2 separate regions of the Homo sapiens genome follow, and region 1 is linked to region 2. Evidence: fine-mapped expression QTL. A gene starts in region 2. The other region holds a variant in brackets. All regions are shown on one strand. Distances are between the middles of the regions. Region 1 has its middle 14 kb from the start of OSGIN1. Region 2 holds the start of MLYCD (malonyl-CoA decarboxylase).

Region 1 (5,374 bases), 39 kb before region 2:
GTGTGCCTGTAATCCCAGCTACTCGGGAGGCTGAGGGCAGAAGAATCGCTTGATCCTGGGAGGTGGAGGCTGCAGTGAGCCGACATCGTGCCATTGCACTCCAGCCTGGGCAACAGAGTGAGACTGCCTCTCAAAAAAAAAAAAAAAAAAAAAAAAAAAGAAGGCATTCCTGCCGGTGTGCCCCGTGTCACGTTGCCCAGGCTGGTCTCAAACTCCTGGGCTCAAGTGATCATCCCGCTTTGGCCTCCCGTGCTGGGATTACAAGCGTGAGCCACCGGGCCCGGCTCAGCAGTCAACCCCTTTTCTGACTTCCGTCCCATACATCAGTTGTGCCTGTTCTCGATGTTGGCATAGATGGAACCGCGCAGGACGTTCTCTCTTGTGCCTGGCTTCTGTGGCTCGACATTGCGTCTCTGCTGGTCACCACACCGATGTGCAGACCAGCGGTTCCCCCTTCTCACTGCTGAACCCGTCCCCTGCCTGAACACCTGCAGCTCTGTTTCCCGGCGATGGAGGCTCGCTGTCACCAGCTTGCTGCCGGGCCGTTCCCATGGGAGTCTTTGTGTGCCATCTGTTTTCATTTGGGCATTTGGGTGAAGACTGAGAAGCGGCACTTCTAGGCCACAGGGAAGGTGAGGGTGATGTGTATTAGAAACTGCACCCACTTTTCCAGAGGGCTGCCCCCACTGCACCGGGGTTTCCACAGCAGCCTTTCAGCATCCTGCCCCCTGCTCCCTGCTACCAAGCGGGCTTTCTACCTGCAAAGCAGGCCACGCCCCTCCCTTGCTTACAGCGCTTTGATGACTGCCCGGCCTTCAGAGGAAAAGTTTAGACTCAGCTGAGCCACAGACCTCCTATCCCCCAGCCCTGCGGGTCTCCTCAGCTGGACCTCTGACTCGTTCCCACCTTGGACCTCATGTTCCAGCCGTACTGAAAGCCCACTGTCCTCTGAGGACACGCCATTTCTGTCCTTCTGCACAAACTGTCTTTTCTGCCTGGAGCACAAGTCCCTCCCTCGCCCTCCTGGGGAGAGCCTCCTTGTCTTCTAAGATCTCTAAAGCATCTTCTCACCCTGCTAACTCCTCCGAGTTCCTGACCGGCATCCTCTGGCCACCTCCACCTGCCTCCTCGAAGCCACCTTGGTTTGGGCTGTCTGAGCACACTGGGTTCGTGTTGTCGCTGAGGATGCTGTACAGTCAGGGCAGGGATGGTGACTTTTTCCTCCCCAGCTGTGTCCCCAGAGCCCAGCAGGACAAGGAGGCCTCAGCAAACATGCAGTCAATCCGTGGAACTGAGTGTGGGTAGGCACAGGCTGAGCGATGAGTTCCACGCTGAAGGGGGCAGCAGCGTGAATCTCTGCAGATGCCTGTTCCTGTGAACATCACCCAGGACAAGACGGGGAGTACGCCCAGCCTCCTGGAAGCCTTCCTTGGGGCCCCTCAGTTTTGTTTTTTTTTTTTTTTGAGACGGAGTCTGGCTCTGTGCCCAGGCTGGAGTGCAGTGGCGCGATCTCGGCTCACTGCAAGCTCCGCCTCCCAGGTTCACACCATTCTCCTGCCTCCACCTCCCAAGTAGCTGGGACTACAGGCGCCCGCCACAGCGCCCGGCTAATTTTTTGTATTTTTAGTAGAGATGGGGTTTTACCATGTTAGCCAGGATGGTCTCAATTTCCTGACCTCGTGATCCGCCCTCCTCAGCCTCCCAAAGTGCTGGGATTACAGGTGTGAGCCACCGCGCCCGGCCTGGGACCCTCAGTTTTTTGACCCCTTTCTGCTTTTTGTCCCCACAGAGTAGTTTTGCCTGTTCTGAGCTTGACATAAATGGAATCACACAGAGTGTCCTCTCTTGCGTCTGGTTTGTTTTGATGTTGTGTCTCTGAGATTCAGCCACACTCCTGCTTTGAGAGGCAAATTCCTCTGCCTTGACATGTGGCATCTTCCTTAGCCTGGACGTGACTGTTTCTCTCCCTAGACTTCTCTTCCGACTTCCTGTTTCCTTCCTCTGCCGGGGTGGGGCTTGGTCTGTAAGTTCCTGGTTTCTGAGTAGACAAGGCCTCTTCCTCTTGTTCTCGGCAAGTTATCCTTGACATTCAGGACATTTCGGTTTGAATATCCTTGAAATACATGGGCTGCAGTACTGCCCCGGCACCTCATGGAGGATTCCTGGGCAGGTCGCCCAGGGCTCCCCATATCTGGTGCCCTCTTTGCAAACACCTGGCCTTTCATTCACTGCAAACCCTGGTCCACGCACGCCACCTAGATCCACGAGGAGGAGGCCCGGCCCTTCCTCCATGCCTGCTGGGGTGATAACACAGCCAGCCACTTTGGCTTTGTCAGAGGAGGGGAGTATTACAGTTTAGTCT[A/G]CATGCAGCAGTGAATTCTGAAAGTGGCGTGCCAGGACAGCAGCACCTGGGGATTTTGAAATCCAAGTTCGTGGGCACCCTTCATCCTCCCGACTCACAGAATCAGAAACACTGGTCTGACTCTGGGGCGCAGCAATCGTTTTTCTTTTCTTCGAGACGGAGTTTTGCTCTTGTTGCCCAGGCTGGAGTGCAATGGCACAATCTCGGCTCACCACAACCTCCACCTCCTGGGTTCAAGTGATTCTCCTGCCTCAGCCTCCCAAGTAGCTGGGATTACAGGCATGGACGACCACGCCCAGCTAATTTTGTACTTTTAGTAGAGATGGGGTTTCTCCCTGTTGATCAAGCTGGTCTCGAACTCCCGACCTCAGGTGATCCACCCGCCTCGGCCTCCCAAAGTGCTGGGATTACAGGCCTGAGCCACCGTGCCCGGCTGCAATCATGTTCTTAACCTCCCCCCTACCCAGGGGTTCTGATGTATGCTCAAGTGTGAGAGCTTCTGACTCCTGGCCTAGGAATGTGTCAGAGATGAATCAATCAAAATGGAGCATCGTTTTCTTTGAGTAGATGTTATCACTATTCCAAAAAATTAAAAAGAGGTTCTAGTACATGGGGCTGACGTGGTCTATTACATAAGCAGGGCACCAGAGCCTCCTTGATGGATCATCCAGCTACCAGGTGGTCGCCTGGCTCAGTGCTGGCATGCAGGTCTGCCTCACGCAGAGGAACATGTTGACTGCACGTGTCATGTCTCCCTGAGAGCAGGTGTGGGCAGGCTGATCATTTTCTACTGGCTTCCCCCATCCATTTTCCACCTCCTCTGTCCTGCTCTGAGCTCCAGGAGGCTGAGCCCCAGGCTCTGCACCCTTACGCGCTTTGGCCAGCTGGCTTCTGGTTGCTTTTGATCAATGGGTGGCTGTGACAGAGTCCAGAGGGTGAGAGGAGTGGGTGGTCAGGACAGTGCTGTGTTGACAAATGTTTAACAACCAGTCTTGGGGCCGGGCGTGGTGGCTCACGCCTGTAATCCCAGCACTCTGGGAGGCTGAGGTGGGCGGATCACGAGGTCAGGAGTTTGAGACCAGCCTGGTCAACACGGTGAAACCCTGCCTCTGCTAAAAATACAAAAATTAGCCAGGTGTGGTGGCAGGCACCTGTAATCCCAGCTACTCAGGAGGCTGAGGCAGGAGAATCACTTGAATGTGAGAGGTGGAGGTTGCAGTGAGCCGAGATCATGCCATTGCACTCCAGCCTGGGTGACAGAGCGAGACTCCATGTCAAGAAAAAACAACCACCACCAACCACCAGCCTTGGGGGGCACTGTGGAAAGCCCTGTTTTGCAGTCCACCAATATCTGTGGCGTGAACACTCCCACCATGATCAATGTCACGTTACCAGTGTAATACTTCTGAACAGTGGAGTTGGAAAGAGATGTGCAGCTTTGCACTCTGCAGCACTACTGCTCCCTGGAACACACTTTGGGAACCATGGTTAGCAGCTGGCATAAATGCCGACTGTCACCCTTAAACTCCTGGAGACCAGGGACTTAAGGAGTTAGGGATAGTGGCTGGGGCTCAGAGGACTAGGAGGCCATGGGACAGCAGCATCTCCATCTTTTGGTTCTGGCTACCCATCGTAATCACCTGAGACCATCTCCAGAGATGATAATCCTGGATTTTTTAAATTCTCAAATGATTGCATTGTGTAGGCTGGGGAGAACCACTGCCTTAGAGCTAGGATCAGTGGGAGAGGCAAGAGGATGATGATCTTTCTATATTGCAATCTTGGGTCACATTAATAAGGGCATAGTCTACAGAATGTGGGAGGTGATGGTCCTGCTTGATTTGTCATTGATCAATGAAACCACGTTCTGAGCCCCACAGCTTAATGGAAACACCAAGTTGGAAAATGTTCAGAAAAGAGAAACCAGTAAAATGAGGAGACTCAAAACTTGGTCTTGAGGGGCTCAAACTAGGCCTGTGCTCCACAGAACTCCACAGATAGCGGCCATTCTGGGAAGCATGGGAGCCAGTTCAGGGCATGCCATCTGCCACACCGGCCCTAAGCTCTGTCAGTTGAGGACTCACCTTTGAAGCCACTCTGGTGCTTCTGTCTTCCCACTGAGGAGCAGGAGGGATTTCCTGAGGGTGGAAATGGCAGATGCTGGGTGGGGAGAGCCCAAGATGAGGGGGACCTAGGGGCAGCGCAACAAGGATTCACTTGGGTGACGACGACGATCAGTGATTCTCCAGGGTCATACGGGAAGACCAGCTAATCTCAGGCACGATCCCATGAGCTCATGAATATTTAAGAAGGAGGATGGAAAGGAGAAGGTCAGATGACAGCACCGGCCATGCTGGTAGCTGTGCCCAAGAACGCACACCCTGTGCCGGAGGTCAGGTCTGCCAAAGCTGGGACCGCGCTGTCCTCATTCTCTGTTTCATCCCTGGCCCAGACGGCACTCAGCGCATGCTCAGTACAGTTGCATTCAATGAATGAGTGAGCAGGAAGGCGAGACGGGGTCCTGATGCGGGGGGAAGATGGGCCACCAGGGCTGGCCTTTGTGAAGAGGGGGCTTTTCCACTGAGGCCCGAGGAGTGGGTGGGGAGCCGGCCACGGGAAGAGCACTCCAGGCAGAAAGAAGAGCACAGGCAGAGGCCTGGGGGCTGGCAGGGCCCTGTGGGTCTGAGGTCAGCAGTAGGACCCGAGGGTGTGGAGCTCTGGGGGTGAAGATGGCAATAGCGGAGAGGGGGACAGAGGGTTGACCCCACAGGGCCGAGAGGCAGTGGAGTCAGGAACCAGCCTCAGGGGCTGCTTCCCGGCTGTGTGGCTTGGGCCAGTGACTTAACCACTCTGGGTCTCAGTTTCCTCAGGGCAAAATGGAGAGGAAAACAGCAGCCATCTCCCGTGACTGAGAATGACGGGTGGCGCTGGGAATGGTGCCTGGCACACAGTAACCTCTGCAGCAATGGTCGCTGCCATTGTTATTATTACTGTTATTAGCAGCGGAGGAGC
Region 2 (5,374 bases):
AAAAATAAACACAAACAAAAAACCGTAAACAACAAAACAAAAAACCATATATATATATATATATATATATATATATATATACGCACGCACACACACACACACACATATACACATACATATATATGTGTATATATGAGAAAACAACTACGTAGAACAAGGGAAGGGGAAGGGAATTAATAGGTTCAGCTACTAACAGTTACATGCACTGAATATAAGGCTGGGGTTTCTAGGTAAAGAAATGGAAGGGGCACAATAAAGCAATCACAGAAAGGCTCCTGAAGCCATTATGTCCAAACCATATGCAGAGGCAAAGATCAGACTGTCGTTATTCATTCTGTTTGATAAACACCTCTGGTCCACAGGACTTTTGGCCTAGCATTACAGTATGCAATGTTTTTTTCCCTTCTGTAAATAGCCTTGGTCAAAAAGCAAGGAAACTTGTGAATGTCTAAGGACTCAGCAGCCTCTGTATTTCCCAGGGGCCAGCTCCTTTCTCTCAACAGTCAAGTCTGGATGTGAGTGTCTTCAGTTGCCATGCAACGTGTTCCTTCCCAATGACGCGATAACCAAGAGTTTTCTTGAGTGGGGAAGAACAAAAGGATGTATTCCACAGCATCTCACAGAACCAGAGAATTCAGAATTGGACCGGATGTGAGAAATCAATGAGGGACAAAGCTGTCCAAATGTCTGATATGAGGACCCTCTCAGCTGGGCAGAAACCTTTCAAGTCCTTCATGGCTTTCTCTCAGGCTCAAAAATCTATGACTGAGTGTGGGGCAGACTCACCTCCACACAAATGCTGAATGATTAGTGTGTCAAGTGTGTCTTATGCCAGGACACCCAGGAATCTATTGCAATGATTCATTCATCATTCTGCTATGCAAGAAATTTAAAGACAAGTTTCCCAGTTTTCGAGGAGCTGATCATTTACATGGGGGGATGATATACTGCAAGTACTATGTCCAAGTGTGGATCAGAAAAACTCAGCTATTCAGACTAGGCTTGAGCCCAGAACATGATAATTCAACACAGTAAGAATTCATGACTGATTCTGTGTCATGCAATTAGCAACTGTGGGCTTTCTGTCTGAGAATCTTACGGCCAAAGATGCCTGGCCCTCAGTAACACTTAGCGCTGTAAATTAACCAGCTATCACGGGGAATCAAATCATGGCCACTGTTGTCACTCTTGACATTAATCCCATACTTAATTATGCCCAATTTTATGCATCTAAGTAGCCAAAAAAGAAAGTTTCTAATAAACATCTGATTAACGGTAAGACAGTGATATAAAGCGTAGTGCAAATAACCCTGGATTAGGGTGGGTGATCAGCAAGAGCTTTTCGCTCTGAATTTCAGGACAAGTAACACAACCTCAGCATGTTCTCCTTTACTGTAAAAGGGATACGTGTTATCACCCACGTAAGACTGAAGGAATGTAAACTATTAAACCAGTATTAGAGTTCTTAAATGGGTCAAGTCATAATCATTCAAGTGTTCAATTTTTTTTTAACACCAACTGCACATAACAAACTTCTGAATGTCCAAAACTTCCTGAAACATTTACGTCATTTTTCGTTCATTAAAAGGGCAGGTTAAGCCTGGGCCACATGGTGAAACGCCCTCTCTACAAAAAAAAAAAAAAAAAAAAAAAATTAGCCGGGCATGGTGGCCTGCACCTGTAGTCCCAGCTACTCAGGAGGCTGAGGTGGGAAGATTGCTTGAGCCTGGGGAAGTCGAGGCTGCAGTGAGCCGTGATAACACCACTGTACTCCAGTCTGGGCAACAAAAATAAAAATAAAAAAAGGGCAGGTTAGTTTTTCGCCGTATTTAATACTAACAGTATAAAAGAAGAGTATATGTTGCTCTAGGCCTTCTTTCGGGTCATAATCATTTAAATCTCAAAGTATGTGTCTGCATTTAACATGAATGAACTGTGCTAATGCCTGATTACCTCAAGTCAACTCAGAATCATCACATTAAGTACTGAACGCAGGGAGTTAAATGCCCTCCCAAAAGTCATGGAGCACAGACAAGGCCAGAAGCCATGGAGACTCCTGGGTGGTGGTGGTGACCTTGAGTCCTATTTACCTTTGTGCATTTCACAGGACTTCTCAGGACAATGTCTCACACATAGCGGGTGCCCAGTGAACTTCTGAAACACCATCCAGGGTCTCAGAAGGCTGCCTGATGCTCTAGTTCAGGTATACCATATAGATGAAACACTTCTCAGCTACAATAATTTCAAAAGACTGTAGAGCACACACTAATCAGGTACGAGAGGTGACAGCTACCTTAAAGACCACCAAGTGCTGAGTATTTAGTAAACACTATACAAGTGAGGACTTCAAGGACAGACTGGAGGAAGGCGGGGGTGTGCTCTGACGAGGCCAGGACTCAGACAGCGTGGGAAGGGGACACAGTTGGCAGGCGGTAACTGCGGGCGAAGTGAGCGTGCTATCGGGCAGGGAAGGCGGGGTGTGTGGGACTTGGAGGGGGCAAGTGAGGACTACTCGAGGAGGGCGGCCAGTCCGCGCTGCCGGGGGATCGACGGCGGCCCCTTACCCGGACGTCCGGCCCCTCCACCAGCTTGAGGGCCTGCGCCTCCAGCAGGTCGGCCCGCAGCTGCACCAGGAAGCGCACGCCGCCGTCCAGCTTGCTGATGTGGTGGAAGAGGCCGCGATAGCGCGGCACCAGCGCGTAGCGCAGCCGGTCCTCGGCCTGCAGCAGCACCGCCGCCTCCCGCTGCTGCTGGCGCAGATGGAGCACGCCGGCGCTCTGCTCCGCCACCTGGCCGTGGTCCACGCCGAAGCCCCGCGCCAGGCGGCCCAGCAGTTCGGCCCGCTGGGCCGTCTCGGCCAGCCCACCGTAGAAGCTCACGAAGTCCGCGCACTGACCCTCGGCGGGCGCCGGTGTCTTCTCGCGCAGCTCGTAGGCCGGCGTCGGCGGCACCGCGCGGCGCAGCAGCTCGTCCATGGCCCGCTCCAGGGCGCCGGCCGCCTGCCCGCTCGCCAGCCGGGGCCCGGGCGGCCGCGGGGGCAACCGCAGCGGGAGGAGACGCCTGGCCGTCAAGCCTGGCCCGAAGCCTCGCATGGTGCCCCACAACAGCTGCCGAGGGGGAGCGCCGCCGCCGCTGCCGCGCTTCCGGCTTCCGGCGCGCGCCGGCCCCATTGGCCGAGGCCGCGAGCCCGGCTGGGGACGCGGCCAATAGGAGGGCGGGGCGGTGGGGGCGAGGCGGCGGGGGCGGAGCGGCTCTGGCGGCGGCCGGAGGCCAAGTGTGGCTAAAGGTTACTGCCCCGCGGCTGGGCTGCCTCGGGGCCTGCTCCCGCGCGGCTGGCGGCTTGTACTCCGGTCCTAACACCTGACCGCCTAAAGGCACCGGCCCAGCCCCTCCTCTCTTTCCCGACTGCACTGCACAAGTGCCGCCTCCTCTCTAGATCCGAGCGCCTCCAGCCTCCCGGTGCATCAGAGTCACCTGGGAACTCCTGCACCGGAGGATTCCTGGGCTCCGAAATCAGAATCCTAGAGATTCAGATTCAGTGTGTCTGGGAGGAGCCAAGGAATATGCTTGCTTAAGAGGTGTTTGTGGCAATCCTCTGGCATGGTAGGTAGCCTTTGTTTGACCCCTGCCTAGGCACTCACCATTCGCGTCAGTGTCTTACACACATGACGCTCAGAGCCACAGAGGTTGGAGGGGTGTGTGAGTGTGTGTGGAGAGAGAGAGAATATGTCTATATGTATGGATGTATGTACACATACGCACGCATATACACATACATATGTATGTAAAAGAGACATGGAGACAGAGAGACTGATGGAAAGCCATACCCTTGAGCAAATGCCAGAATGAGACAAAGAGTTTTCTTTGAAATAGTTTTCAGATAATTGCAGTTATCAAGGCATATTTATTTTGTCCTCTAGAAAGATAGGCCTGAACTCTAGTTCCCCCTCCTTCCCCAATCCATTACAATCTGTAGAAGAGAATGTCACATACCAGCCATGTCTCCCACATGCAAAATTGCAGGAGGCATTAGGAACACAGTGGGATTTTGTTCCACTCTGATGGAAATATGGCATCTTTGGTTGGAGGGTGAGGGAGCCATGTACTTGGTTGACTATGTCTAGGTGCTAGGATTTCTATAGGTAGAACCCTTTGGTGCAGGTCTTGCAGTATAAAAGACACCTGGAGGTAGTTCTGTATGAGGACAGCCTTTGCTGGGTGTGTCTCATCTTATGGGGCACGAAGAAAGTACGTTTGGCTCATTCTGCCAAGACACAGACACACAAAACATTCTGAAAGCCTAGTGGTGGCTTTTGAGGACACCTCTCCATTCCTCTTTTCTAAGAAGTGGTGAAACCATATTGCCAGCTGGCTAAGGGAGTTGGTGGGGTCCAAACTCTGGTGTTTGTCTCTTTGCCTTGTCGAGTGAGCTTTTGTCTGTCCTAGGATACTCCTGCCTTGCTTTAGGAATCTTGTCTTGAAAGCTTGACTTTGCTTAAGCATTTGCTAAGTGTAGTACTCCCACAACCCTGTTCTTTCTCATCTTTCCCGGTGCCTTCCTTTTTATGTAATTTCTGGCTTCTGTTTTTTTTTTCTCTGTGTTTATACTTTTTTCTCTAGGCGTCAACAGCCATCCTCTGCTTTTTCCCACTCATGTCCTTATTTCAAAAGACTGCCCCAATCCAAAAATGAAATTAAAGAAACAATTCTATTTACAACAACATCTGAAGGGATAAAAGAAACATGTTTAACCAAGGAAGTGTGAGACTGGTAGATGGAAAACCACAGAACAGTATTGAAGGAAATTAAAGAAGACCTAAACAAATGGAATGGTCCATGCATGGTTCATGGATTGGAAGATGTAATATTGTTAATATAGCTCATATGGTTTGGATCTGTGTCCAACCAAATCTCATGTCTAGTTGTAATCCTCAGTGTTGGAGGTGGCGCCTGGTAAGAAATGATTGGATCATAGGGGCAGAGTTCTCATAAATGGGTTAGCACCATCCCCGCTTGGTACCCTACAGTGAGTTCTCAGGAGATCCGGTTGTTTAGAAGTGTGCATCACCACCCCCTCTCTCCTGCTCTGGCTATGTGAAGCTCCTCACTCCCCCTTTGCCTTCCGCCATGAATGGAAGCCTCCTGAGGCCTCTCCAGAAGCAGAAGCCACTACGTCTTCTGTACAGCTTGTGGAACCATAATCCGATTAAACCTCTTTTCTTTATGAATTACCCAGTCTCGTGTATTTCTTTATAGCAGCGTGAGAATAGACTAATACAATGGCAATACTCCCAAAATTAACCTACAGATCTAATACAATCCCTATTAAAATTTCACTGCCCTTTTTTTTTTTGCAGAAATAGAAAAACATATT

Evidence for each region. PIP is the estimated chance that this variant, and not a neighbour inherited with it, causes the effect. A credible set is the group of variants that fine-mapping cannot tell apart.
Region 1: its variant is the best candidate, but not a certain one, in a credible set for the expression of MLYCD in thyroid (GTEx, PIP 0.79).

Annotation. Positions count from the first base shown.
Region 1 is chr16:83,936,257-83,941,630 of GRCh38, reverse strand. No RefSeq gene overlaps it. Among named protein-coding and RNA genes, the nearest start is that of OSGIN1, 14 kb to the left of the region's middle. The variant A/G (reference allele first, on the strand shown) is at 2,363.
Region 2 is chr16:83,896,863-83,902,236 of GRCh38, reverse strand. MLYCD (malonyl-CoA decarboxylase) reads right to left here and starts at 3,122. Exons shown (of 5, transcript NM_012213.3): 1 at 2,565-3,122. The coding sequence starts at 3,092. RefSeq lists silencers at 2,453-2,622, 2,923-3,352.